6 linked regions of the Homo sapiens genome follow. The protein of the gene in region 1 purifies or fractionates together with the protein of each later gene. This does not show direct contact. Each region holds a gene or a part of one and is shown in the gene's direction. Other genes may lie near its edges.

Evidence for each region.
Region 2: the proteins of GLT8D2 (region 1) and LRFN3 purify together in Homo sapiens (affinity purification with mass spectrometry, with the first as the bait; one large-scale study listed by BioGRID). This does not show direct contact.
Region 3: the proteins of GLT8D2 (region 1) and QSOX1 purify together in Homo sapiens (affinity purification with mass spectrometry; 3 studies listed by BioGRID and IntAct, with this or other methods). This does not show direct contact.
Region 4: the proteins of GLT8D2 (region 1) and GDPD5 purify together in Homo sapiens (co-immunoprecipitation; one large-scale study listed by IntAct). This does not show direct contact.
Region 5: the proteins of GLT8D2 (region 1) and CHST7 purify together in Homo sapiens (affinity purification with mass spectrometry, with the first as the bait; one large-scale study listed by BioGRID). This does not show direct contact.
Region 6: the proteins of GLT8D2 (region 1) and CACNA2D1 purify together in Homo sapiens (affinity purification with mass spectrometry, with the first as the bait; one large-scale study listed by BioGRID). This does not show direct contact.

The regions. Positions count from the first base shown.
Region 1 is NC_000012.12:104,047,388-104,051,687, reverse strand, and holds the start of GLT8D2 (glycosyltransferase 8 domain-containing protein 2), read left to right. Parts: upstream 1-1,500; 5' UTR 1,501-1,793; intron 1,794-2,195; exon of another isoform or gene 2,196-2,265; intron 2,266-4,300.
Region 2 is NC_000019.10:35,934,884-35,939,173, forward strand, and holds the start of LRFN3 (leucine-rich repeat and fibronectin type-III domain-containing protein 3 precursor), read left to right. Parts: upstream 1-1,490; 5' UTR 1,491-2,672; intron 2,673-4,290. UniProt on the Homo sapiens protein: Cell adhesion molecule that mediates homophilic cell-cell adhesion in a Ca(2+)-independent manner. Promotes neurite outgrowth in hippocampal neurons.
Region 3 is NC_000001.11:180,153,687-180,157,668, forward strand, and holds the start of QSOX1 (sulfhydryl oxidase 1 isoform a precursor), read left to right. Parts: upstream 1-1,182; 5' UTR 1,183-1,221; coding exon 1,222-1,486; intron 1,487-3,982. UniProt on the Homo sapiens protein: Catalyzes the oxidation of sulfhydryl groups in peptide and protein thiols to disulfides with the reduction of oxygen to hydrogen peroxide. Plays a role in disulfide bond formation in a variety of extracellular proteins.
Region 4 is NC_000011.10:75,449,442-75,452,941, reverse strand, and holds part of GDPD5 (glycerophosphodiester phosphodiesterase domain-containing protein 5), read left to right. Parts: coding exon of another isoform or gene 1-126; intron 127-610; exon of another isoform or gene 611-1,609; intron 1,610-1,708; exon of another isoform or gene 1,709-2,549; intron 2,550-2,958; coding exon 2,959-3,057; intron 3,058-3,331; coding exon 3,332-3,425; intron 3,426-3,500. UniProt on the Homo sapiens protein: Glycerophosphodiester phosphodiesterase that promotes neurite formation and drives spinal motor neuron differentiation.
Region 5 is NC_000023.11:46,577,393-46,580,892, forward strand, and holds part of CHST7 (carbohydrate sulfotransferase 7), read left to right. Parts: intron 1-3,500.
Region 6 is NC_000007.14:81,964,778-81,968,277, reverse strand, and holds part of CACNA2D1 (voltage-dependent calcium channel subunit alpha-2/delta-1 isoform 1 preproprotein), read left to right. Parts: intron 1-614; coding exon 615-682; intron 683-1,070; coding exon 1,071-1,109; exon of another isoform or gene 1,110-1,113; intron 1,114-2,612; coding exon 2,613-2,684; intron 2,685-3,500. UniProt on the Homo sapiens protein: The alpha-2/delta subunit of voltage-dependent calcium channels regulates calcium current density and activation/inactivation kinetics of the calcium channel. Plays an important role in excitation-contraction coupling.

The DNA.
Region 1 (4,300 bases):
TAGCTAGATAGGAGGAATAGGTTCTAGTGTAGTATGGCCATAGTTAACAATAATATATAGCTTCAAAGAGCTAGAAGGAGGATATTGAATGTTTCCAACATAAGCATCAATATTTGAGATTATAGATATGCTAATTACAGTGTTCTGATCACTATACATTGTATATTGAAACATCAATATGTACCCCATGAATATGTACAATTATTACATGAATATGTATCAAAACAAATTAAATTTAAAGACAAAACAAAGAACATAAAACATCTTCTTAATAATGTTTTATATTATGTGTTGAAATGATAACATCTTGTATATATTGGGTAAAGTAAAATATATCATTAAGATAAATTTTACCTCTTTGTACTTTTTTCTTAATGTGGCTACTAGAAAATTTTAAATTATAGCCAGGTGTAGTGATGTGCACCTGTAATCTCAGCTACTCAGGAGGCTGAGACGGGAGGATCGCCTGAACCTTGAAGTTCACGGCTGCAGTGAGCTGTGATCACGCCACTGCACTCCAGCCTGAGTAACAGAGCAAGACCCTGTCTCTTTAAAAAAAAAAAAAAGTAAAATTGGCCGGATGAGGTGGCTCACGCCTGTAATCCCAGCACTTTGGGAGGCTGAGGCGGCGGATCACCTGAGGTCAGGTGTTTGAGACCAGCCTGGCCAACATGGCGAAACCCCATCTCTACTAAAAATACAAAAATTAGCTGGGTGTAGTGGTGGGCGCCTGTAATCCCAGCTACTCGGGAGGCTGAGGCAGGAGAATCATTTGAACCGGGGAGGCGGAGGTTGCAGTGAGCCGAGATCTCATCACTGCACTCTAGCCTGGGAGACAGAGGGAGACTCCGTCTCAAAAAAAAAAAAAAGTAAAATTACAGGGTGGCTTGCATTTTATTTCTGTTGGAGAGCACCACTTTAGAAAGAGACAGTGAGCAGGGAGATCCTTATATCCTTATAGGAAATAGGAAGAGGAGCCATTGCAGAAATAAATTCTGTGATCCCAGACAAAGTGCTGGCACCATCTCCCGGGTTTGAGAACACACCGCAGAGATACAGAACAGCGCAGATTGCTGTTGAGGTCAGCTCCCAGCTCCCTGCCTCATTCCTCTCTGATTCCTCTTTTGTTCAGGCACAAAAACACTCCATCCTGAAACTTTTGTCATTATTGCCTTGGTAGAAGAAGACCACAGTTGTTACCTGGGTTTTGATTTGGGGACAACAGCATTTCAATGACTAGGAGATTTCAGGAGAAGCTAGTGGCCATGAAGATTCTCAAAATCAGCATGAACTTTATTTTTCACTGGTGTTCTTTCAAAGTTTGCCTTCGACTCAACGTGTGGTAGAAATTCACCCTGAAAGCATTTGCTCTTCTCTGGTTTTGTGTCTTTTCCTCCAGAACAGCGTTGTTTTTTGCATGTTTTGCACTTAGCCAGAGGAAGTCTGGCGCATCCGAGCCGGCCAGCCGAGCACATCTGGAAGTGGTTTCTGGGGCCGCCCCTCTCTGCCAGCGCAACTCCTGGGTTCCCAGCGGCTTCGCGCAGAGGTGGAAGAAACCCGAGACGTTCCGAAGTCAACGCAAGCAAAGGGGAGTGCGGGTCGGGGAGGAATATTCTTTTGGAAACGTAATATTGGCCTTGGGGCTCTCCAGCCCTTTGGGACTTCCAATGGGATCTTAGAAGCAGCCGAAGCAGCGTGAGGGCGGCAGCCCAGGGCCAGCCACGATTTGAACGCTCTGCCTTGCAGCTCTTCTGGACCGAGGAGCCCAAAGCCCTACCCTCACCATTCACCAGGTAAATAGAGAAATTTACGAGCAGTGTGCAGTCGTTCCGTTTTATCCTGGCCGGTCTGCAGCAGTTCTTTATTCTGCTACAGACCCAAGAAAGTAAATCAGAGGTGTCAGATTGCCCCACACAAACTTTGCCTTCAGAAACTTCCCAGTCCGAACTGGTAGCATTCCAGCGGAACCCTTTTCGGCCATTTCCAGCAAATCCAGTGTGCAATGTTTTTCACATCCTGGGCTGCTTTTCCAGACCTGGGTTTCTCCTCCTTCTCTCCACAAATATGATAATTTACTATTTGTATCAGATTTTAAACATAAAAATCAGCAGTTAGGATGTGGATGAATGCTATTATTTAATGAAGGTATGTCCTGAGCCACAAATTATTTAACTGAGCATGATTCATGTTTTCAGAATCTGCCTTAGGAAGCTGTTCTGAGGATCTCCATCCCCCCAGAAAGAACTGGCCGTTGTGGAAACCCAAGTGAGGCTTATTGTAAATACAGTAGTCGTGGTGTTTGGGTTGAAAATGCTTTTTAAACATTAAAAAAGATCTTATGTTTACTTTATAAGCAAGTGTCACACATTGGACAAGCCTGGTATATAATTTATGAAATAAGAAGGATAGTTAACATGAGAGTAAAAAAAAAAAAACCTGAGAGAGAGTGAGAGAAAGAAAACATGATGATATCTGAATGTCTGGATGTGCTTTGAAAAAAAAAATCAGTCCTCTCGTTGTTTGGCCCCTGTGCAGCCAAATATCCAAAGTGATATTGGTTGGTTTTTGTCTTTTCCTTTTCCTCCAAATGTTCTGGTGTGGCACTTCTGTGTAATATCCTTTCTATATTACATAATGGAATTCCAGTTCTCCCTTTAATGCACTTGGAAGTAGACTGTGCAATGCAGTGGTAAGAACATAGGCTCTGGGGTCAGGCTTACAGGACTGAATCTACATGCTGCCACTTACACACCTTCTAAGCTCGACTCCGGGTGAATTGTTTAACTGCATGCACCCTAGTTCCTCATCTGTAAAATGGAAATTACATGACCTAATGTCTATAGAGGACATAATACAGGACCTGCAAAGTAGTTAGGCCTCAGGAAAGGTTAGCTTCTCTGATGGTGCTGATGATGGCAGTGGTGACAAAAGTGATCATGCATCCTGTTTTTGGCAACACCTCTGCTTTTGACCATGGTTCCCTCTGACAGTCCAGTGGTCCAAGTGTTCCTCATACCCTAATATGTCATCTCTCCAGCACTTTGCTTTCTTCCTTTCTTCCTTCAGACACCTCTCTTTCTTTTATTTCCCATTCTGTCTTTCATTATTTCTTCTTTGTGCTTCCTCTTTCCTTGCTGAGAAAATGTGAGGTTCATTAAGGCACAGCCCTCATAGTTTTCATTTCTAGTTCCCGAGGAAAATGATTCTAAATCCTTTTTAATTTCAGCATTTTCCAAAGAAAGTTCTGAGAAAACATAGTCCCATGGGAAACTCTGTGAACTATATTACCCTCTTAGAGATCGCAAGGCATAATAGCATTTTAAAGGTCCTGAGAAGTCCTGTAGTAGAGAAATCCTCTTAAGGTTGTTTAACGCAATGATTCCCAAACAGTTGATCGCTGAACCACCTTATCACATAATGTAGGTTAACATTTCTAGGAGCACACTCTGCGGTGTGCTATTCTGGACACACTTGTTTTCATTTTGGTTCCTCTTTTGGACATCCTATTCTCCACCTTCCCTGGAGCTCATCCAAGGGGATGCCTTGTTTTTCCTTCTCAAGTTAAGGACATAAGATTATCATGTGTGTTGTACTGGTATATAGAAAATCTGGCCTAAATTGGAGATCAGAAGTCAGCAAACTTTTTCTGCAACGGGCCTGATAATAAGCCATATGGTTTCTGTTGCAACTGTTCAACTCTGCTGTTGCAGTATTAAAACAGCAGAGAAACAAAAAATAAGCATGGCTACGTTCTAACAAAACTTTATTTACAAAAACTAGTGTCAGGCAGGATTTGACCAGGGGTCATAGTTTGCTGACCCCTACTCTAAAGGCTTTTTGTGAAAGAATTTCTCATGCTAGCACAGGAGAAAGCAAGACAAATTCTCTATAAACTGAAGACTCTCTTGTCCTGCACCCCTAGTGCTATGGTCTGAAGGTTTGTGTCCCCCCAAAATTCATATGTTGAAACTCTAACCCCCAAGGTGATGCTACTAGAAAGTGGGGCCTTTTGGGAGGTGGTTGGGTCATGAGGGCAGCACCATCACCAATGGGATTAGTGCCCTTGTAAAATAGGCCTAAGAGGCTGGGCACAGCGGCTCACACCTGTAATCCCAGCACTTTGGGAGGCTGAGGCAGGTGGATCACTTGAGGTCGGGAGTTTGAGACCAGACTGACCAACATGGAGAAACCCCGTCCCTACTGAAAATACAAAAAATTAGCCAGGCGTGGTGGTGCATGCCTGTAATCCCAGCTATTTGGAAGGCTGAGATAGGAGAATCACTTGAACCCAGGAGGTGGA
Region 2 (4,290 bases), on another chromosome or scaffold:
TGTAATCACAACACTTTGGGAGGCCTGGGAGGGAGGATTGCCTGAGGCCAAGAGTTCAAGACCAGCCTGGGCAGCATATTGAGACCCTGTCTCTACAAGAAATTTTAAAAATTAGCTGGATATGGCGATGCATGCCTGTAGTCTCAGTTACTCTGGAGCCTGAGGTGGGAGGATTGCTTGAGCCCAGGAATTTGAGGTTGCAGTCAATTATGATTGCACCAATGTACTGGGTGACAAAGCAAGACCCTGTCTCAAAAAAAAAAGTATGGTCTTTGAAAAGTCACATTAGCATCACCTGGGTACTCGTTAAAAATGCAAATGTTTGGGTCCCACCTCAGACCCACTGAACCAGAAACTCTGAGGTTGGGACCTGGAGATCTATGGTGCCCCCGGGTGATCCTGGTGGGCTGCACTGCAAGGACACCTGGCCTGGCTCCTGCAAGGCAAGGCATCCCTCTCTGCTTTTCTTTCTTTCTTTCTTTCTTTTAAAGACAGAGTCTCACTCTGTCACCCAGGCTGGAGTGCAATGGCTGGATCTCAGATCACTACAATCTCCACCTCCCGGGTTCAAGCAATTCTCTTGCCTCAGCCTCCCGAGTAGCTGGGATTACGGGCGTCCGCCACCACACCCGGCTAATTTTTGTATTTTTAGTAGAGACGGGGTTTCTCCATGTTGGCCAGGCTGGTCTCCAACGCCTGATCTCAAAAGATCCGCCCGCCTTGGCCTCCCAACGAGCCGGGATTACAGGCGTGAGCCACCGCCCCCGGCTGTCAGTGTGTCTTGAGGTCTTTCCCTAATCCCAGATGGCACAAGTTTTCCCTCTTGCAGGCAGAGAAAGGAGCCTTGGGAAGGAGCCCCTCTGGCCTGAAAGATCAAGCCTATTGCTGGGCATGGCCAGGTAAGGAAACTCCAACCGTGGAAAGGACATTCCAGGGAGGTGGTGCTGAGATAAGGGGGGCAGAAAGAGACAGGTTTGGGGGGCCAGTGGCTCTGGAATGAAGCGCTACACTCAAGGCTAGGAATAGTTACTGAATGCACATACACACATACCATTCTCACAGCCCAGGTGCTGCGTCTTAGAGCGTGTGAGTGTGTATGTGTGTGTCTGTGTGTGCGCGCGCACGCACGTCTCTATCTCTGTTTCTGTCTTTCTCTGACTTGTCCTTATCTCTTGTCTCTCCATCACTCTCTGTGTCTCGCTGTCTCTGTGCATTTCCATGTCTCGAATATGTGTGTGTTTCAATCTGTCTCTCTGCCTCTTTCCATTTTCTCCTCTCTATCCATCAATCTAAGCCTGCCCATCTTTTTGTCTGCCTTTCTGTATCTCCGTTCTTCTCTGTCTCTCTGTCTCAGTCTCTCTGTATCCAGGGATTCTCTTTCCCAGCAGCGCCAGTGCGACTCCATGGGAGGTGGGGCCGGGGCGCGTCTTTGAGAGAAGGGGCGGGTGCCTACGCCTTTAAGCGCGGGTGCGCGCGGAGCCTGCGCCTTTAAGCGCCGGTGCGCGCGCTGCCCTGGGTTGCCGGCGAGGAGGCCGCGGGAGCGCCTGGACCCGGCCCGCCCAGCCCGGCCCCCGCCCGGCCCCCGCCTCGGCCCCGGCGGGGGAGGGGTCTCTGAGCGCGGCCCCTCCCCCCTGCGCCCCCGCCTGCGCTGCGGTGCCCCCATCCCGCGTGTCCCAGTCTGTCTGACCGTCCCTCCGCTCCCAGGCCTCGCCCCACCCGGCCCTGGGGCTGCCCGGTCGCCCCCCTCCCCACCGCAGCCGGTCCCCTCCCTCCCAGTCAGCCTCCGCCGCAGCCCAGGAAGCCAGCCGGGACGCCGCCGCCCCGGACCCCGCGCCCTAACCTCCACCTCGGGGGCCTGCACCCCCAGATTGAATCGGGAATTCCGGAAACCCGAGCCTGGAACCCTGATCTGGGACCAGCACCCCGAGATCCGGCCGTGGAACCCCAAGATCTGGAGCCTGAACCCCAGTATATGGGGCTGGAATCTCAACATCGGTCACTGGGACCTCAATATTTGGAGCCGGAACCCCACAATTTGGAACACAGACCCCAATATTTGGAGCAGAACCCCAAGATTTGACATCTAAAACCTCAAGCCTGGAGCTGAACTCTGAATTCTGGGCCTGGGACCTTGAAATCTGGGACTGGATTTCCAGTACTGTACCCTGGAACCCACTCTTGGGGACCTGAACCCTGGGATTCAGGCCTCAAATTCCAAGATCTGGACTGTGGGATTCCAAGGGGCCTGAACCCGAGTTTGGGCCTGAAGTCCTTGCTGCAGACCTGAGTGCTTAAATCTGGGGCTTGAGACCTCCCAATCTTGACTCAGCACCCCAATATCTGAATGCAGAACCCCGGGATCGGATCTCAGACTCTAAACCCCACCGTTTGGCTGCTTAGCATCCCAAGACTGGACCTGGGAGACCCTGACCCTGAACAACCCAAACTGGACCCGTAAAACTGGACCCTAGAGGCCCAATATTTAGGGGTCTGGAACCCCGAGTATTAAGGTCTGGAGACTCCGTTGCCACAGATTTGAGCCGAGTCAGGACACAGTCCCTCTACAGAAGCCTTGGGGACAGGAAAAGCATGACCAGATGCTCCCTCCAGAGCCCTGACCTCTGACTCCCCTGGAGCTAGGACTCTGCTCCCTGGGGCTGCTTCTAGCTCAGGTAAGGCTGCTGAAACCTCAAGGTGGGGACGGGCTGGGAGGAGCATTGTGGCTGCGGGTTACGGTACCAGGTACCCTTTGACACTCTTGGGGTTTCTCCAGAAAAAAAGACATTCCCCCATGGGTCTGCCTTCAGCTCCTGCTCTGCTCCAAACACTCTCTGGACACTGGCCATCCTTGCCCCTCTCTGACCTTCCCTGCCTCAGTTGATGGGACCTCCAGGTCTCTGACCCCTGCAACCCTTACAGCCTTTCGCTGTCTATCCGGTCCGACCGTCTCCGCCACCTCTCTTGTCCACCACTCCTCTCTCTGGGCTCCTTTCTCCACCTGTCCTCTCAATGGCCATCTCTGTTCCCTTTTTCTCTCTCTGATCATCTTTGTGACACCCCTGTCCACAGGTCCTCTCTCCAGTCGCCTCTGCCTGCTGCTTCTCAGTGACCATCGCTGACATCTGTGTCCACTGTGCCTCTCTCTAATCATCATTCACCAGCTCTCTTGCTCCTTCTCCACCCCTGAATCTAAGCCTAGGTCTGTGACCGTCCCCATCCATCTTTGACATTGCTGTCCACCACTCTTCTCTCCAGCAGCCTCTGTCCATCTCTCCTCTCTAGCTTCCTCTGGCCACCTTTCCCTTTCTCTGGCCATCTCTCCCACTGCTCTTGCCCTCCTCCCACCCCTGACCCTAACTCCCAGTCTGCAACTGTCTGACCATCTCTGGCCACCTCTCCTCTCTCTCTCACTCACTGATGCCCTCTGATCATCTCTGGCCACCTCTTCTCTCTCTCTCACTCATTGATGCCCTCTTGATCATCTCTGGCCACCTCTTCTCTCTTTCTCACTCACTGATGCCCTCTTGATCATCTCTGCCCACCTCTTTTCTCTCGCTCGCTGATGCCCTCTGATCATCTCTGGCCACCTCTTCTCTCTCTCTCACTCACTGATGCCCTCTGATAATCTCTGGCCACCTCTCCTCTCTCACTTGCTGATGCCCTCTGATCATCTCGAACATCTCTGCTGCCTTTCCTCTCTCCGATGACCTCTCCCCGCACCATCCTCCTGAGCAGCTGTCCTGGGCTCCCACTGACTCTGCCATGTCTGTCCTTTTCCTCCTCTCTGACCACCTTGCTGGCTTTGGGCCGTTTCTGACCACGTGTCTCTGACATGGTCATCTCCCCCAGATCTGAGCCCAACCCATGCCCTCCCTTCTCTTTGTCCACTGCTCATCTTCCTGACCATCTGTAACCCCTTCTCTTCTCTGGTCATATCTGACCACTTCTGATCATTGTTGCCACCCTGGCTGCCCCGTCTCCCCATGGCCAGCTTTTACCATCTCTGACCACGTCTAAAGCCCTCTGGTTTTCCTGCCACTCACCCAGACCAGCTGTCATTTCTCTGACCATTTCTTTACTTTTTTCTTTTGGAGAGACAGAGTCACGCTCTGTTGCCCAGGCTGGAGTGTGGTGGCGCAATCATAGCTCACTGCAGCCTCAAATTCTTGGGCTCAAATTGATCCTCCCACCTCAGTGTCCCATGTAGCTAGGACCACAGGTGGGCGCCACCATGCCTAGCTAATTTTTAAAAATTTTTGTATAATAGATACACGGTCTCACTTTGTTGCC
Region 3 (3,982 bases), on another chromosome or scaffold:
TCTATTCTTACCCCAGTCTACATTTCTTCATAACATCGGTCACCATCTGATCTACATTTACTTATGTATCATCTCTTTACCCCCACTGGAATGTAAGTTCCACGTCCCTAGAGTCTATATTTTGTTTACTGCCTTATCCTTATACCTAAACAAGTGCCTGGCATGACACCACTCAGTAAAACTTGAATAAATGAATAACAAATCTAGGCTCAAAGCTCTTACAGGTGAAAGGGGCTAACCTGGCAGTCACAAAGGAAAAATATCACTGTGACAACCGTCTGAGGAGCACCTTCTCCCCTTAAAATAACTCACTCAAAACAGTGGAGCTGCAAAGGTGACCAGAGAAAATCCATTAACACCTTAGTGCCCATGACACCAGGTGAGTTGATCGGGCTACTTGCGAGAGGGACATGTGAGTGAGCGTGGAGAGCTCTGAGTAGGCTGAAGAGCTGGATGTGGGGGATCTGGGCTGCTGGGAACCCCGAATGTTGGAATCGCCCTGACAACCTTATGAGGGTGGTCAGATATGGGTCCTGAGGAAACTGATTCCACGGCAACTGCCCGCCAACCCAGCACACCCCACAGTGAAGAGGGGCTTCTGATCCATGAGTAGGGCCCCTCAAATGATGTTCCCCTTTAGATGGTCATGGTCATCAGCAGGGGTGGGTGCATCGATCCTGTGGGGTCTTGGTGGTCGCAGACCAAGCGTCCCTCTTCTCACATCTAATTCACAACGTCTCATCGCTCCGCGGGAGCCCAGGAACTGCCCTACAACAGCCGAAATCCGGGTCGTCTATTCCAACGGACTCCTCTTCCGTTGGATACGGGGGCCGTGAGAGGCCAAACAACCTCCGCGAGGCTACCCCCGCAGCGACCGCTCGGCGGGCGCTCCATTCCTTTACCGGACTGTACACCTCGCCTCCTGGGGCCTGAGGCGGGAACCCGGGTCGCGCTGCTCCGAGGCCTCGGCGGACCGCGAAAGGATGGCTCACCACCCGGCCAGGGCCAGCCCCTGCAACAAGCTCAGCCCCGCCCGCTCCCGCGCCCAGGAGCGGCCGGCGGGGCGGGGTGGCTGGGCCGGCCTCGGGGGCGGGGGCTCGGGGGCGGGGGCTCAGGGGCGGGGCCACGTGGCTCCTCCTTGCGGGCGGAGGCAGGCGGTGCCGCGGCGCCGGGACCCGACTCATCCGGTGCTTGCGTGTGGTGGTGAGCGCAGCGCCGAGGATGAGGAGGTGCAACAGCGGCTCCGGGCCGCCGCCGTCGCTGCTGCTGCTGCTGCTGTGGCTGCTCGCGGTTCCCGGCGCTAACGCGGCCCCGCGGTCGGCGCTCTATTCGCCTTCCGACCCGCTGACGCTGCTGCAGGCGGACACGGTGCGCGGCGCGGTGCTGGGCTCCCGCAGCGCCTGGGCCGTGGAGTTCTTCGCCTCCTGGTGCGGCCACTGCATCGCCTTCGCCCCGACGTGGAAGGCGCTGGCCGAAGACGTCAAAGGTGAGAAGCGGGGGCGGCCCGCTCCCCCGTGCCCCGCCGCCCGGACCCCTCCACCTGCCCGGTGGGCAGCCTCCTACTCCGGGAGCGCGTCCCTCTTCCAGTCACCTCCGCCCACCTCTTCCTCTCCGCGCATCCCACGCCCACCACCTTCATGTTTCTCAGCTCCATTTTTGCCTCCCGCTCCCTTGCCTTTTCCTCTTGGCCCTCATCCCGAGCTTCTTTCCCTCTCCGCGGCCTGGGCCCCCAGACCTGCCCTGCTCGCCCGGTTCGTCCCCCGCCAGGTTACTGCCTCCTTCCCTGCGAGAGGTCTCCTTTGTTCCTTCCTCCGCATGGTCCGCTGACACCTTACCGTTTCCTGGGCCAGCCTTGTGGCAGTCCTCTTCCTCTCGTCCAGGGACCCATGTCATCTTCCTGCCAGGTTCCCTAGCTGCTGTGGGTCAGTGCTGGGGAGAAAAGGGAACGGACATCCATTTTGCCTCCCTGCCACCTTTCTCCACTCCCTCGACTGGTTGACCAGGTGGTACATAGACTTCCTTTCTCATTTTTGTCTTTGATGTGGGTATGTCCACCTGGCAGTTTTCCTATCTCTGTTCCGGGCCTCTCCTGACCTGCCGCCTCCAGCTCCTTAGCTTCTGGGCCACATCCTTCTCTCTCTTCCCCCGCTCAGACCCTTATATTTTAAACCCATGCACCCAGAGGCCTTTGGTGCGTGTTTGGCTCTTGCTCCATGTTCCCAATCCCTGGTTGGGGCACCAAAACTATATTTCCTGAATTCCAAGACACCATCAACTGTGAGACACACTGTTCATTTTATGACAGCCCAAGGGGTAGAAGGATAGGAAAAAACCACTACATGTATAAAGATTTGAAGGTGAACTCTATTACAGAAATGCTAAAATTTTGAAACACTTAAGACTTAGAGTCGAGGAAATATGGTAATAATAGTAATTAATATTTACGGAGCACCTATCATTTCAGGCACCTTACTAAGTACTCGGCATACATTGTCTCATAGTTTCCTTTCCACAATTTAAAGATTCCTGTGGTGTCACACATCCACCTAATCCAGGTAGTGGGTATTTGGCGGGCAGGAGTGGTATAGTGATAGTGATTTGTTCCTGACTTGCTGCCTCTGAATGGAGTTACTTCCTGACTCTGGTGCTAGGTCGCTAGCACGGCCTCCTACCCTGAAATGGTCATTGAATGAGAACTGTGGGCATCTTTGGAAATAGGCCTTTTTCTAGAGAAAGGGGAACTGGAACCATTGTTCCACTGTTGGTATTTCTTGATAAATTCAACTCTTTGTGGTAGAACAGTGCCTTTGTAGATGTTAGTTTTCAGACTCACCCTCCTCTTTTCCTGAGCAGCTTGCAGATTGGTTTCTGAAGAGGCGAGATGGAACCATGTGTACATCTTTTAGCCATATGGTCCTGGAAAATTATTTTTAAATGAAACTTATAAGCTGTTTTGACCTCCAGTTTACACTTGCCTACATGCCTCACTGGTCCCATTAGCTGAACGTGCCTTTCTGAGCAGTGCTTCACACCATTTCAACACATTTGGTCAGGGGAGGAGTGATGTCAACACATCTGGTCAGGGGAGGAGGGAGGAAGAACATGGATCATGGAACTGGAACACCTAAGATAAGGTAATCTCAGGGGACATTGTGGGCATGAACATCATAAAAATTCCCAGATCGCTTTCCACTTTGAGGTTATAAGAGGTGTTCAGTGGCTGCAGATGGACTTATTCTAGAATTTCTTCCTTCTTGAGAGTGCTGGGGGGAAAGATTAGCTTCCAGCTGACTCACATGTTTGGCCTCTTGCAATGCAGAGTTTTTAGTTTTCCTATGAGTTGCATGTCTAGATACTGACCCATTCTGCTCCTGGATGAGGGTTACCACTTCCAAACAGGATTCCCCAGTGCATGGAGCCTTTCTCTAAAATAAGAAAGCGAAATCAGAATTTAACCTCTGAAAAGGAAATGGAAGGATCAAAGTCTGTGGGGGTGAGCCAGGGTAAATGGGAGGTGGGAGATTTCAGTGGAAACTGGAGGTCTCCTGTGAGCCATTGGTGTGAGTCAGTCCTTGAGCCAGATCGTGTTGGGAGGGCACTGGCAGAATCTGCTGTCAGCCTGCAATGAAGAATGTCCTCCACTCTAACCCAAAGGGGTGTTCCCTGGTGAGGCCCTGCTGAGAAGCTAGGGTTGGTCTCGCTTCATCTCTGTGTCCTGAGGTTTCTTGAGAAAGGTTGGTTGTGGGCCCGCAGAGGGCTGTGCTCATCCCACCCTGGGCTGTGTGAGTACTGCCCATGCTCTCTGCTGAGGACACCTGTATCTTGAGGCAGGAACAGAGACAGAGTGAAGGTCACAGGGAGAGAGAAGAATTTTGCAGCCATATTTGGCTGGCTTCAGGCATTTAATCTGACTGAATAGGGTTCATTTCTTCAGTGACTAGGGCAGTAGATTCTCTAGGCACCTGCTGCCCCGGGGCAGAGC
Region 4 (3,500 bases), on another chromosome or scaffold:
TGTCCTCGCCTGACTCCCCTGCCTCAGTGGCAGCAGCCCCCAGCCCAGGACCTGCACAGAGGAGGCGTCTGTCAGCGACCCAACCTGAGCCCCAGAGAGGAGCACTGGGTACCACACAGCCCCAAGGCAAGTTACTGGCTGGGCTGGGGCTGGGGCTTCTGCCTCCTACCAAGGCTCCATCAGCCTCTACCTGCCATCTGCTATGTCTACTTCATCACCTCTCCTGGTGAATTCAGACTTCTCTCCATGCACTGGCCCCAGCTTTATGGTTTTTCCTGGTGTCCAGCCTCTGTCCCTCCAGCAGCAGCTTAAGGAAGGCGCATTCACTGAGCACCTCCTGTGTGTGCCAGGCACTGCGTTCACCATAACAGCAGTAACCATCCTTTATTGGGTGCTGACCACATGTGTCAGGCACCTTTCACTCAGAATTTCACAGTCATTTCACTCCTCACAATAATCCTGTTCCCATATCATGCTCACTTTTTAAAATGATATCACTGAGATTTAGTAAGCATTTTCTTCTGGCCAGCCGTTGTACTAAGCATTTCACTTGCATTTCCTCACTGATCTTCCCCAACCCCCTTCCAGGTAGGTACTCACTATCCCTATTTCACAGCTCTGGAAAGGTCCCTGGAGAGGATGTGGAAAGATCCCCAGTAGGTAGCAGAGCCAGGATTCGACTGAAGACCGTGATTCAAGTGAGGCTCTTAACCCTGGGCCAGCTGTCTGCCATTTGGACTGCAAAACCCAGAGGCCAGATACCCCTAAGAGGCCAGCTGTTGCACCTCTGCAAGGCGGGGTTCCACCTCCTCTCGGGTCCCGGCACCTAGGCCAGACTCATCGAATGAATGAAAGACTCTGTTGTATCCCCTGTACCCACCATGGCTATCACAAGCCACAGTCCCATGAAGACAGAGAACCCAAGGCCACTTTCTCAGAGGAGGACGGTGATCTGTCTCTGGGCCTCTAGGGTGGGATTCATCCTTCTCAGTCAGATTTCAGGAGCGATGGTGGTTGCGTTTTTGGGTGTCAGTGCTATTGCTATAACTTAATGATGCAAGGTAGGGAAGTCCCACAGACACTGAACATGCAGTGATGCTGCTGAGTGTGTTGATTAGCACCAAAGCAACTGTGGAACTCAGAGATAATAACATTTTTAATTGTATTAGGGTTTGGGGAATCAGTTTTATTGCAAGTCGTTTCCATTAATAGGTATTGTGATGAGATGCTCCTGGAAACCATCCTTAACTCACTGTGTGCAGGGCCACCTCCCACGATGGCCACAAGGGGGAGCTGCGCGCCGGGGGCAGCCGGGAGAAGGGGCCTGAGTGCCGAGGGCGGGGTTCTCAGGGGTTCGGAGGCGCAGCTGGGCCTCCCAGAGACTGCGCAGCCTCTCTGACACCAGCGTGCTGTCTGTCCGAGAAAGCGCACACCCCCTTACCCCCTGAGATGGGCAGAAGGTGTTCGTTTCTGGTTCTGCCCCTTCAAAGCTCCGTGACCCAGCCAGCTGTTCCTCTCCCCGAACCTCGCTTCCCGTGTGTGAGATGAGGATGCTCGTGCCTCCGCGGAACCAACCTGGGGACCACGCGAAGCGCCCCCACAGGCCCAGGCACGCCCATGCCTCTTCCCGCCCCGAGCCCCCATGTCACAGCCCTTCCAGCTCCTCACCTGCCTCGCTCAGGTCTCTTGGGGGAACATTTGTTTCCAGGCTGATGGGCTGGAATGAAAAGCCTCCAAAGGGAAACTTCATCCCAGGCGAGACTCAGCATTCCCCGCCGGCGAGTGAAGGTCCCTGGGTAGGGAGCGGAGATGCTGGCCACCGCCCCACCCTCATCGTCTAGAAATGCCACTGTCCCTGCTCGGCATCAGAGGGCCCTGGCCGCTGCTGCCTCTGGGAAAGGTTGCCTCGGGAGAAAGGGGGTGAAGGCCCTGCCAGCAGCTAGAACGGCTCCAGGGAGGCAGGGCGGCCGGCAGTGCTGTGGGAGAAGGACAGGCCTTTGGAGGGAGATGGGAGACGAGTCTGGAGAAACTAGGGGGACGGAGGTGGCGGCTTTGACTGACCCTTCCAGAGACTGGGATCTGCGGGAGGCTTTGGAGGAGAGCCACAACCTGGGCTTCGGGGAGGCACGCCTGGGGGTGTGGAGGGGGGTGGGTGGAGTGAGATCCACGGCTAGGGGCGAGGGGCTGGGGGCCGAGGAGCCGAAAACCTCTGCCGAGCTTCACGTGGTTAAAGATTTCAGGTCTTACCTGTCACCAGAGATCTCTGTCCCGTAGAGGTGCCACCTCATCCTCCATGAGAGCTGTGCTTTGCTTTCTTCTGGAGGCTGCAAGGAGGATGGCCCCCATCACGGCGGACCTAGATGCTGGGAGTCCGGGAGAGGGCAGGCCGTGGAGATGGGGCAGGTGGCGATGTGTTTCACCACCCACTCCCGCCTGAAGTGCCACTGTGAGCCCAGCCCAGGGTGCCAGGCTGGGCTGCACTCCAGGCTCCTGCAGCAGACCCAGTTCCTCAGCCTCCTTCCCCTGAGGCCTGGGCATGGCCTGGACAAGTGGGTTTCCTCCTCTGCTGTGCCATGCTGAGGTGGCAGGGAGGCTGGGCGGGACCTTGGATGTGACTAACCTGCCAGGCCCAGGGAGGTCCCCCTTACTGAATGTCCTCCCTCCTCACAGTTCCCTCCTCCTCCTGTCCCCATCCTCCCTTCCATTTCTCGCTGTCCCTTCCTCGCTGGGTCTGCCGGCCTCCTGCTGCCTCCTCCTGCCTCAGTCTCTCCCTGCCGTGTCTATCTGCCGGCCTCTAGTTTCCTGGCAGCCCATGCCTGTCTCTTTCCTCCCTCCCCTCTGCCCTGCTCCATCGGCCTCTCCTGCCCTCTCTGTCTCTCCCTCTGGCTCCTCTCTCAGACACACTGGGAACCCTCCCACCCGCTCTGAGCCTCTGTCCGGTGACTCTTCCCCCTCCAGATCGGGCTGGTGGTCATCCTGGCTTCCACGGTGGTGGCCATGTCGGCCGTGGCCCAGCTGTGGGAGGACGAGTGGGAGGTGCTGCTGATCTCCCTGCAGGTGAGTGAGGAGGGTCCCCCAGGACCCTCACAACAAGAGCCTTTCTGTCACTTCCCTTTCTCCAGACCAAGGCCCAAAGAAGGGCAGGGAGGCGCCCAGGGTCACAGAGCAGGTCAGAACTAGGGAGGACACCAGGGTCCTGAGGCTCCCAGTGTCCCCAGTTGGCAGATGGAGACAGGGTTGCCTGCCTCATAGGTAGAAGTAGGAGGCTGGTGACACAGGGTCTGGGCAGAGCTGGGCGTTACTGGTCTCCCTTCCCTCTCCCTGCAAACAGGGCACAGCGCCATTCCTGCATGTGGGGGCTGTGGCAGCAGTCACCATGCTCTCCTGGATCGTGGCAGGACAGTTCGCCCGCGCAGAGCGGACCTGTGAGTAGAACTGTGAAGGGCCTGCCCCTCCAATCCCTGCAGGTGCCAAGACCAGCTGGTGCTGCCCCGACCTGG
Region 5 (3,500 bases), on another chromosome or scaffold:
GCACTTACCACCAATCAGTGGGTTGATTACAGTGCTTGTATTCTTGGTTCCTAGGAAGATAACGTTACTGCCGACTCACTGATGGGTTTTCCAAAAGTTTGTCACACTCTATTCTAGAGAAGGGAGGAGAAGAGAGGGGGAGGGATCCTTACTGAAGGGCTATGTGTCATGCACTGAGTTAGGCATTGTACATATATCATTATTTATACCAGTTTTCCAGATGAGGAATCCGAGACTCAGAGAAGTAATTTGCCCAAAGTCATACCTGGGCTGGTGAGGGTGGAACAGTGTTTGGTGTTAGACTCCAGAGCTCATAATCCTCTCTTTTATACCTCACCTGGCCCCTGCCTTGGCATTCCCTGGCAGCACCCTGATACTCCAGCTAGGCTAGTATGAGGTGGAAAACACACTCAGCTTTATTACTAATATGTCCCAACCACTGAACAAATAAAATATCCCTGAGCTGCCGACAGTGCCTACACAGGAAAGCCGACAACTTTACAGCCATCCTCCCCACAGGGCATCTCAGGGTGCCCTCAGCTCAACTGAGGAGAGAGGCCACATGTGAATTAACCTGAGTAACTTCTGGATGGTCCATACCCAATGGCCAGGATTTGGCAGTGAGGGAGTCAGTGAAGTTTTTTCTGGTCTGGGTAGGGGCCGTAGCACCCTGAACCAAGTCACCAAGGACCTAGGCCCTTTCTATCTTTTACATCTTGGCTTTCATTCACTGGCTTATCTTCCCACTGTAACAAGATGGTAGCCACAGCTCCAAGCAAAACATCTTCACACAACGACACAGGGTTATTAAAATACAGAAAGGAAGGAAGCTATCTAGCCAGTAAGGGGTGGAGGGGTTTTTCCTCCTGCCATGCTCTTTTTTTTTTTTTTTTTTTTTTTTGAGTGGCAGCTCTTACTCTGTCACCCAGGCTGGAGTACAGTGGTGTAATCTTGGCTCACTGCAATTTCCTCCTCCCAGGCTCAAGTGATCCTCCCACCTCAGCCTCCCAAGCATCTGGGCCCACAGGTGCGTACCACCACATCCAATCTTTCACCCAGGCTGGAGTGCAATGTCATGGCTCACTGCAGCCTCAACTTCCCAGGGTTAAGCAATCCTCCCACCTCAGCCTCCCAAGTAGCTGGGACTACAGGTGCACACCACCACTCAATCTCATTAAAAGAAATTTTTTTTTTGCAAAGATTGGGGATGGGCGGGGAGTGGGGGCTCTCACTGTGTTGCCCAGGTTAGTCTCGTACTCCTGAGCTCAAGCTATCTGCCTGCCTCGGCCTCTCAAAGTGCTGGGATTATGGATGTGAATCACTGCACCCAGCCTTAATAAATTATAACACCTTTCCCAGAACCCCCTTTACCAGCCGACGTCCCTTTATGTCTCATTAGCTAAAACTGGGTTATACAGCCTGCCCTAGCCCAATCATTGGTGAAAGGGAATGGGAGCATTGTGATTGGCTTAGACCAGCGGTTCTCAGCCCTGGCTGAACATTACATTTACATGAGGAGCTTTTTTATTTATTTTTTTAATGCCAATGCCTGAGCTCCACCCCCAGAGATTCTGATTTAAGTAGTCTGGAGTGGAGTCCCCAGACTCAGGCACTGGGATGTTTGAAAAGCTCCCCAGATGATCCTACTGTATAGCCAAAGCTGAGAACCTCTGGCTCAGACCAGTCATGGTTCATCCCCTGGGCCAGATGGGACCAGAAGGCTGCCACCGGAACAAGATCAGGATGGGGAATAAAGGGCTGTTGATGAGCACTGAACTGCTTGCCACAGTAATTTATGTGAAAGAACTTGGAGCTATGAAGTGCCAAGCAGATGTAGAGTGTTATTATGGAAAGGGGAAAATGTCCTCAATTATACATGGGTCCATTTATCACCCTCTCACATGCCTTCACATGCTTTGTTGTCTGTAGCTCATTATCTAATTATCTAATAATCCATCATTGTACACTATCCACCACTGTTCTGGACAGACTGATGTGCTATCCTGTCCTTTTCAGCATGTCTCCCTTTAATGTCTGCCCTTGGTAGGTCCCAAAGTTTCATCCCGCTAGGCATTTAAGGCACCTTGATCTTTGCTCTTGACATGACATATGCATCCTTTGAAAGAAATTAGGAAAGAAGGCAAACACCCTGTAATTTGAACCCTAACAATCAGGAAGCTTTCTTTCTAAAGAAATCATGTAAACAGGAAAAGAAATGATCAACCACCACCAAATCATTTTGAAAATCTATTTTAATCAGGAAACTGGGCCACAAACATTTTATATAGGCTTATGTATAAATATCACTGAGGCCGGGTGCAGTAGCTCACACCTATAATCCCAGCACTTTGGGAGGCTGAGGCAGGAAGATCGCTTGAGGTCAGGAGTTCAAGACCAGCTTAGGCAACATAGTGAGACAACCCCCACCATCTTTACAATTTTTTTTTAAACTAGCTGAGGGTAGTGGCGCGCATCTGTAGTCCCAGCTACTTGAGAGGGTGAGGTAGGAGGATCGCTTGAGCCCAAGAAGTCGAGGCTGCAATGAGCTGTGATCACGCCACTGCGCTCTAGTCTGGATGATAGAGAGAGACCCTGTCTCAAAAGATAAATAAATATCACTGAAAAGTGAAGCTGTTGCTTACACACAGACTGCTAAAGAATGGGCATTTTTTTTTTTTTTTTTTGAGATGGAGTCTTGCTCTGTTGCCAAGCTGGAGTGCAGTGGTGCGATCTCGGCTCACTGCAACCTCTGCCTCCCAGGTTCAAGCAATTCTCCTGCCTCAGCCTCCCCAGTAGCTGGGACTACAGGTGTGTGCCACCATGCCCAGCTAATTTTTTTGTATTTTTAGTAAAGACGGGGTTTCACCATGTTGGCCAGGATGGTCTTGATCTCTTGACCTCGTGATCCACCCGCCTCGGCCTCCCAAAGCGCTGGGATTACAGGCGTGAGCTACCGTGCCCAGCCCAGAATGGACATTTTTGAAACATTGCTCCTATATAGAATTTCTCATTCAACAAAATTATCTTCAGACTCCTAATAGCATATCAACCTGGGTGCTAGGTTTGAGCCAGAGAGCTGGAAGTTAGGATGGTGTGTGTGTGCGCATGTGTGTGTGCACATGGATAGGTACCTGAGTAGCAGGGCTGCAATGAGGTGTGAACAATTTTTAAAAATACATCCATGTCCAAATCATTATTGCTCCTTGTGAGGTTAATGCTACCTTTGATCAAGGCACTCGGAGCTCCCATTTGGGCCTGCCTTCCCTGGCAGGACCCCTCAGCTGATGGATACGGTGTTAAGGAAAAGTCAAGACTTGTCAAGTCTGATGAGTGAACAGGGAAGGAGGCTGGTCCTACAAAGCAAGGGGTGGACATAAAGTAGTAACAGTCATTCCTTGCTTTCTATATGAAGTCAGTTTTTGAATTACGGCATGGGAACCCAGGCATCAGGGCCTGCCTCTCCTGGTTACTACTTAATTGACCTTTGGCAAGTCCCTAAA
Region 6 (3,500 bases), on another chromosome or scaffold:
GTTTTTTTGATTGTATGATTCAGTGTTTGAAGTTTTAAAGGAGAGTATTTTGAGCCTTCCTGCTCCTGAGGACAGCTTTACCCCATCAGCGGATCTATTACATGAATTCACTCCATCACTTACTCACTAACTCACTTACCTATTCCTTCATTCACTCAATTGCTCAATTACTTACTAAATCAGTTATTCTCTCAGCCATTCATTTATTCACCCACTCTCCTACTAACCCACCTACTCATCCATTCATCTGTTCACTCTTTCAGCAAAGATTTATTAAGCACCTACTGCAAGCACTGGTGGGGTTAGGGAAACATCTTAAAATATACCGTTTGAATGACCTCAAGTTTATGAGGCTCTCCTGACACTACTGTTTTTTATTTAGCTTATTGTATTAGTTAATTGGTCAGGTTGTGGCTAATGAATACACTCTTTTGTGAATATGTTACAATTTATGTAATAGTTTAAGAGCTATTAGCATTATTTCTTAATGAACACAAAACTAAAACTTCTGTAATAAACTATAGTCTGATACTTGCTATCAAAATAACTGTCATATTGCAAAGGTTGTATTACATCTAATTATACCTTTGAATTAATTCAAATTAATTTTTCAGTTGTTGGAATTAAAATTGATGTAAATTCCTGGATAGAGAATTTCACCAAAACCTCAATCAGAGATCCGGTAAGATATTTTTAAAAAATTCTTATGCTATGTTTAATGTTTTCAAAATTCAATAGAAAAAAATATAAGGTCCTTATACAGTGGCAAATACATTCTCAATACCACTACACTGAAGTAGAATTCTGAATTCCTATTTTTTCAAAGCTTTTTTTGTTTAAATTAGTCAATATGTAATAGAAGTATTTCAAGGTTATAACATGCAATGCTAGTTTATATATTGATTGACATTGTCTAATAAGATAAAACTTTTGTTTCTTATAGACTAGACTGTTTAATCTTATTTTTCTACTGGATAAATTATTTCAGAATTTCTAATTATAACATGGTAATAATATAATTAAAATCCAACTTTTAAAAGTGAGGTGATAATCGCATTTTTGTCTTTCAGTGTGCTGGTCCAGTTTGTGACTGCAAAAGAAACAGTGACGTAAGAAAACTATTTAAAATCACTTTTGAGTACAATATTTCCTTGTGTTACTCTTGCTAAGACTATAGTGATGAAAAAATATGCAGGAATTTTTTAATCAAAGGCTAAAAAATTCTATGGAAATGTGAAATAATATATTCATTTGAATTTGTATGCTTTTGATTTTGAATGTAAAGTGCTTGAATTTTTAAAAATATGTATGTATCCTTGGAAGGTAAAAAAATGGTCATGTCAATATGATGGTTCTCTTCGGTCTCAACTGTGTTACATTCTTTTGTACATATTTATCTTTAGCTCTATTTCTGGATAGGAAGTTTCTAACCAAAGCAACCCTATTGGTTATCAATGCAGTTTTCTCTCACCTATCACACTTTCTCTAAATTTGTTCACACTGTATTATATAGTTACAGGAAAAATGTTTTAACTAAACCTGGAAGTATTACAGTTTATTATAAAGTTATAGTTACATGGATTGAGTTTTAAGGTGTCTTGTATTACTTTCACTTCTGTTTGAGAAATTGAAAAAGGAAATGTGAACTTTGTTCAAAAGTTGAAGATGCTCTAAGAATGATACTAGATAAATAATTCTAAAAATTGAATAACAATGATGAAACAATATTTTCTTCCAGTCCTCTTTTGTGTGTCTGTATATCTCCAAGGGAAGCAGGGGGTTCATATCGTCTTTATCACTCCTACTCCTGTGAAATTATGAGCCAATAATTTTAATGATTTTTGTAACTTATCTATTTCACATAGACTATGCAGTAGCTGTTTTAAGAGCAAATATTTTAGTAATAAACTGCTTCCACATTAGGAAAATGCAATGCATTACATCCTCAACTTTGAAAACCATGTTTTTATTTGTGATTTTTATTCAATACAAATTATTATATTGATTTTCATACATTAAAACATGATTTAAACTAGGTGGGAATTTATCCTGTGTTTCAGGGTGAAGTAAGTATTAACCATGGACATTTTTTGTTTTGCGTTTTGCTTTTAAATCTCCAATTATCCAACTACATATTTTTAATCTAAAATATGAAATAATTATAAATAGTCTTATAGTACTGATGTGTTTTAAGTCTGTGAAACAGGACAACTAAAATGATATTTTTTTAAAATATCTTTTTGTCAAAATCCTAAGTATGTGTTTAAATCAGTTACTCATTATTAAATAATTTTCTCTATCCAGTTTTCTGGATCATTTAGATGACCCGGAAATGGTAAAAAGATTATTTCTAATTTGCTCTTCTGATTTGTTCAGACTGAATTGACAGTCTCAAGTGGATGGTTGGTGTTGGATTATCAAGCCTGATGGTTTGATATAAATCTATGCATGCCTTTATTTCACCAGAATTTAATGAACATATATGTTCAAGAGAAGATAGGCATTTAAAATTTTCTATTTTTATTGCTCTAATCATGTATATAATGGGGTAAAGACAATGCAGCCTCCTAACCTTTCTAAAAATGTGTTAACTGTTCACTTTATTTTGATAGGTAATGGATTGTGTGATTCTGGATGATGGTGGGTTTCTTCTGATGGCAAATCATGATGATTATACTAATCAGGTATGTACCTCAAATAAGAGGGAATTAGGCTTTCCAAAGTGTGTTTCCCGGATCAACATTACAAAACCTCTTTCAGTGTTTTAGAAATCGATGAGTTGTTTTATTTCTGTCATACAATAATTTGTAAAATGCTTAATGTTATGTAAACCATTAAGAAATGCATGCTAAGTCTAGTTTTTATGTTATTTGATTTTACATTTTAGTACTGGTATCATTAAAACATACAGTTAAGGATTTTAGCATGACATGAACTTTTAATCTTTCTGATATTTAGAAAACTTTCACTTCAACATTTGTCAGTTGATGGTATCTAATTTAATATATAGCTTGTTAAAACTGATGTGATTTCTAGTCTCAAACCTGCAAATGAGCAGCACATAGGCTATTTTTAACAAATTTGAAGTAGATGCCAACTAATTTCACTTCTGAATCTGCATTCCTGGCTTCTTTCTTTTGAAAAAACAAAGCAAAAATATCTCAACCCTGGGCTTTGTTTGTTTTTTTTCTGGATGACAGGATTTATGGGGTGGAGCTGATTCACTCATGATTGCCCCTTTAGATGGGACTTGTTCCAGTTCATCACAGCCCCTACAAGTTCGTTTTCTAGGCCAGCCTGCTCTCTCATTTATGCCACTTTTCCATTCCCCAGGGGGGCATTTGATCTTTTTTTTATTGTATATGTTTAAGGTGTACAAAAAAAAGCTTTGATTTGCATAGTTAAGTGATTACTGCGTCAAGCCAATTAACATATCCATCATCTCAGGTTGTTAACCTTTTTTGCGGTATGGTAAGAAGACTTAAAATCTACTCTCATCA